2 separate regions of the Homo sapiens genome follow, and region 2 is linked to region 1. Evidence: fine-mapped expression QTL. Tissue or cell type: pancreas. Region 1 holds a variant in brackets; the other region holds the start of a gene. All regions are shown on one strand. Distances are between the middles of the regions.

Region 1 (2,755 bases):
ATCACACCATTGCACTCCAGCCTGGGTGACAGAGCGAGAGTCTGTCTAAAAAAAAAAAAAAAAAAAAAAAAAGAAAGATATTCAAAATCATTAGCCATTACGGAAATGCAAATCAGGACCACAGTGAGATACCACTACACACCCACGAGGGTGGCTATTTTAAAAACCCATAAACCCCCAAAATGAACAGTAACAGGTGTTGATGAGGATGTGGGGAAATCAGAATTCTCAGACAGTACTAGTGAGAATGTACAATGTTGCAACGGCTTTGGGAAAGTCTGGCAGTTCCTCAAAATGTTAAACATAGTTACCACGTGACCCAGAAACTCTACTTCTCAGCATATACCCAGAGCAATGGAAACACATCCTCACATCAACTTGCCAGGAATGTCCACAGCCGCTCGATTCACAGTAGCCAAAGGTGGAAAGAACCCAAATGCCTGTCAGCAGATGAATTAACGCACAAAATGTGTTCCTTCCATACATAGAACATGATTCAGCCATAAAAAGGAAGGAAGCACTGATCCATGTTGCAGTGTGTGTGAACCCCAAAAACATGATGCCTAAGTGAGAGAAGCCGGACACAAAAGGCCACAGAATGTGAGATTCCACTGACATGAAATGCCCAGAACAGGCAAATCCATAGAGACAGGAAGCAGGTTGGTGGCTGTCAGGGATTGGGGGAGGGGAATGGGAAGTGACTGCTGATGGGGACGTGGGTTTTCTTTTGGGAAGGTGAAAATGTTCTAAAATAATGTTCTAAAATGGATCGTGGTGATCAATGTACAACTCTGTGAATTTACAAAAAAATCATCAAATTGGCTGGGCGCGGTGGCTCACGCCTGTAATCTCAGCACTTTGGGAGGCCGAGGCGGGCGGATCACGAGGTCAGGAGATCTAGACCATCCTGGCTAACACGGTGAAACCCCATCTCTACTAAAAATACAAAAAATTAGCCAGGCGTGGTGGCGGGCGCCTGTAGTCCCAGCTACTCGGGAGGCTGAGGCAGGAGAATGGCGTGAACCTGGGAGGCAGAGCTTGCAATGAGCTGAGAT[C/T]GCGCCACTGCACTCCAGCCTGGGCGACAGAGCGAGACTCCATCTCAAAACAAACAAACAAACAAACAAAAACATCAAATTGTACACTTTAAATAGGTGGATTGTAAAATACATGAATTATATATCAATAAAGCTGTTTTTAAAAATTATTTATTATTATTATTATTATTGAGATGGAGTCTCGCTCTGTGGCCCAGGCTAGAGTGCAGCGGTGTGATCTCAGCTCACTGCAACCTCTACTTCCTGGGTTCAAGTGATTCTCATGCCTCAGCCTCCCAAGTAGCTGGGAATACAGGGGTGCACCACCATGACCAGCTAATTTTTGTATTTTAGTAGAGACGGGGTTGCACCATGTTAGCCAGGTGGTTTCGAACTCCTGACCTCAAGTGATCCACTGGCCTCAGTCTCCTGCCTTGACTTCCCAAAGTGCTGGAATTACAGACGTGAGCTGCCACGCCCGGCCAGCTATTTTTATTTTAATTTAATTTTATTTTTTTTGAGACATGGTCTCACTCTGCCACCCAGGCTGGAGTGTGGTGGTGTGATCACAGCTCACTGCAGCCTCAGCCTCCCCAGGCTCGGGCAATCCTCCCACCTCAGTCTCTCAAGTAGCTGGGATTACAGGCACGTGCCACCACTCCTGGCTAATTTTTTATAGAGATGGGGTCTCACCATGTTGCCCAGGCTGGTCTTAAACTGCTGAGCTCAAGCAATCCACCCACCTTGGCCTCCCAAAATGTTGGGATTACAGGTGTGAACCACCACGCCTGGCCAGCAAAGCTGTTTTTAAAGAAAGTGTTCACAATTTAACAAACTAAAGCCATGCCTTTCAAACTTTGGAAGAGAACCCTCTGCAGAAATATAATAAGACATGAAGAATCAGGAGAGTTTGTCTTTCTGCAACTCTCTGTCCTTCATCCTTTTGCAGTTGGCCCTGGGTGAATGTCCTGGGGGGACATGGGGAATGCCTTCTGTTCTCAAAAGCCTTAGTCATTAGGAGGCTGAGGTGGGAACACTGCTTGAGGCTGGGAGTTCGAGACCAGCCTCGGCAATGTAGTGACACCATGTCTCTAAAAAAAAAAAAAAAAAAAAAGGATGTGATTTTTAAGTTTCTTTTTTAATTTTTAGTTTATTTTTTATAGAGAAGAGGTGTCTTGGGAGGCTGAGGCAGGTGGATCACCTGAGATCAGGAGTTCCAGACCAGCCTGGCCAACATGGGGAAACCCCATCTCTACTAAAAATACAAAAAATTAGCTGGGTTTGGTGGCGGGTGCCTGTAATCCCAGCTACTCGGGAGGCTGAGGTAGGAGAATCACTTGAACCCGGGAGGCAGAGGTTGTAGGGAGCTGAGATTGCGCCACTGCAATCCAGCCTGGGCGACAGAGTGAAACTCTGTGTCAAAAATAGTAATAATAATAATAAAATAATTAAATAATGTTTTTATTTATTTATTTATTTATTTTTTGAGACGGAGTCTCGCTCTGTCGCCCAGGCTGGAGTGCAGTGGCGCAATCTCGGCTCACTGCAAGCTCCGCCTCCCGGGTTCATGCCATTCTCCTGCCTCAGCCTCCCGAGTAGCTGGGACTACAGGCGCCCACCACCACACCTGGCTAATTTTTCGTATTTTTAGTAGAGACGGGGTTTCACTGTGTTAGCCAGCATGGTCTCGATCTCCTGACCTAGTGATCCACCCACCTCGG
Region 2 (2,604 bases), 34 kb before region 1:
GGCAACGTAGTGAGATCCCCGTCTCCACCAAAAAAACGAAAACAAAACAAACAAACAAAAACAACAAACAAAAAGAAACACCGAAAAGTTAGACTGGCATGGTGGCTCGCGCCTGTGGTTCCAGCTACTCAGGAGGCTGAGGCGGGCGGATCCCTTGAGCCCAAAAGTTGGAGGTTGCAAGAGCCGTGATCGCGCCACTGCACTCCAGCCTGGGCGACAGAGTGAGACCCTGTCTCAAAAATAAAATAAAATAAAATAATAAAGTAAATAAAAATATTGAGCAGGGCGAGGTAAGGGGGTATTAGAACTCTATTCTGTCAGACAGATTTTTCTTAACACGCAAGTGCGCCGCCCGCCCGCTCTGATCCAGAACCAGAGAATCCGCCATGCGAAGGCGCTCCCGGAGACCCCGCCCAGCCAGTGCCTGGAATTCCACCATCAGCGCTTTATTCCGAGTTTCAGTGCTGTCCTGGGTTAACCTGAAAGCAATCTCCGAGGCTCCCCTTTCTGGCTTTCGGGGAGCCAGAGACTGACCGGACACTTGGCTCTGCAGGTGCAGACCTGGACCAGAGAGACAGAGAGCCAAGGAAGTCCACAGTGGAGAGAGGGCTGTGCTGGGGGTTCCAGGAAGACTTCCTGGAGGAGGGGATCTTGGAGCTAGGCCTTGAAGACGAGTTTGTCAAATGAGGAAGGGCATCCGAAGCCGAGGGAACGGCAGAAGGGAACGCTGGGGAGGGGAGAGAATCTGGAGAGTTCCGGAAAAAGCAAGTAGGACTCTTTCCAGAAGTTCGGGCAAGATTTTCCCTGGATCAGGGCGTGGGTTCTCCAGTACTCGTCCCTCCCGGTCACCGAGATGCTCTGAGTTTCCGGTCTGAACCTGAACGTAAAGAGGTGTAGTCCCTCCTTTCTTGAACGGGAAAACTGAACGCACATAGGTCCTTGCCACGCCTAAGGCTGCGGAGTGAGCAGATGGAAAATGCGGGACTCAAAACCTCCCCTCGCTGTAATTTGCACTGCCCTGTGCCAAACTCTGTCCTTTCTTCCATTCCTTATTCCTATTGTCAGCCTCGCTGCGCTAGGACCCTAAAAATTTGGTCTCATGTTGCCCGGGGAACAACATTTCGCTACACCTACCTCCATACCGCCTCCCGCTCCCGCTCTCCCTTGCACCAGCCAATGGAAGCGAGTATCTTCAGACGGTGGGCAGGACGTATCCTAAGATACCCAATGGTGGTCGAGAATAGTTGAGCACTTTACTAGTCAAGCCGCGGAGTGGGCGGGGCCCCCTGCCCAGACTTGAAGCCACACAGGCAGGTCGGGCAGGCGGGTCGCAGGTTGTAAATCCATGTGGCGGGGGCTTTGGACCCTGGCGGCCCAAGCGGCACGTGGGCCTCGCAGGTGGGGCTACAGGGGAAGGGGTGCGACAGCTTGGGGTGCTGCTTGGACCCCAGACCCACTCCCTGGGTTTTAGGGGCCCAATTCCCTGCGGCAGAGCAATCATTCGCGTTCTTCCGTGCCTCAATCGTTCATGACCCTTGCGGCAGAGCCCATATCTGGGTCTCCTTCTGGCCTCACAGTCCCTAATCCGGTCACCCTTCGGCCTTCAGAACATCCAATTTGTGCATCCCCCAGCCGCAGAACCCCCCCACCTGGAGCATCTCGCGATCATCGAGCCCTCGGTCTACTTGACACTGAGGCTGAGCCTCCCAGGTGCGCTGATTCGCCTCCCCTCCGGTTCCAGATTGTGCACGCGCCGGAGCAGCGGCGCACCAGCCCCCGGCTCCGGCGCCACCATCTTCGCGCTAAGCTCTGGCCAAGGCCGCTGCGGCATCGCAGTGATCCGGACCAGCGGCCCCGCCAGCGGCCACGCCCTCCGAATTCTCACAGCACCCCGAGACCTGCCCCTTGCTCGCCACGCCAGCCTGCGCCTGCTCAGCGATCCCCGCTCCGGGGAGCCTCTGGACCGCGCACTGGTGCTCTGGTTCCCAGGTGAGGGTCCCCAGGTTCCGAGCCTCCTGTAGGTCCCATGACTCAGTTTCCCCCTTCCAAGGGTTTGCACTGGCTGTGCTGTCCTCCTGTCACCTGTCTGTCACATTAGGTCCCCAGAGTTTCACCGGTGAGGACTGCGTGGAGTTCCACGTGCATGGAGGCCCGGCAGTGGTGAGCGGCGTCCTGCAGGCCTTGGGTGAGTTGCAGCGTTGGGTGAGATGCTTGGTCCTCCCAATGGGCCTGGGTGGGGACCAGGGGGTGTCAGACTGGGACCTTCCTGCAGGCAGCGTGCCAGGGCTTCGACCGGCGGAGGCAGGCGAGTTCACCAGACGGGCGTTCGCCAATGGGAAGCTGAACCTGACCGAAGTGGAGGGGCTGGCGGACCTTATCCACGCGGAAACAGAGGCGCAGCGGCGGCAGGCCCTCAGGCAGCTGGACGGAGAGCTGGGCCACCTCTGCCGTGGCTGGGCCGAGACCCTCACCAAAGCAAGTCCCCCATTTGTCCATTCTCTCCCTCAGAGACCCCATCTGTGCAACCCCTGCATGAGACCCCCTCTCAATCCCGCATTCATTCCCTGCGTGAAAGCTTCCGGCCTATGAGCCGCCATTCTGGCC

The links. PIP is the estimated chance that this variant, and not a neighbour inherited with it, causes the effect.
Region 2: it holds the start of GTPBP3, and the variant in region 1 is fine-mapped to the expression of GTPBP3 in pancreas (GTEx, PIP 0.95).

The regions. Positions count from the first base shown.
Region 1 is chr19:17,369,955-17,372,709 of GRCh38, forward strand. The region is part of intron 1 of PLVAP (plasmalemma vesicle associated protein); the gene reads right to left. Among named protein-coding and RNA genes, the nearest start is that of PLVAP, 6.0 kb to the right of the region's middle. The variant C/T (reference allele first, on the strand shown) is at 1,056.
Region 2 is chr19:17,336,267-17,338,870 of GRCh38, forward strand. It overlaps GTPBP3 (GTP binding protein 3, mitochondrial), which reads left to right and starts at 1,287. Exons shown (of 9, transcript NM_032620.4): 1 at 1,287-1,398; 2 at 1,742-1,989; 3 at 2,099-2,185; 4 at 2,273-2,475. The coding sequence starts at 1,346. RefSeq lists enhancers at 256-927, 928-1,599, 1,600-2,271.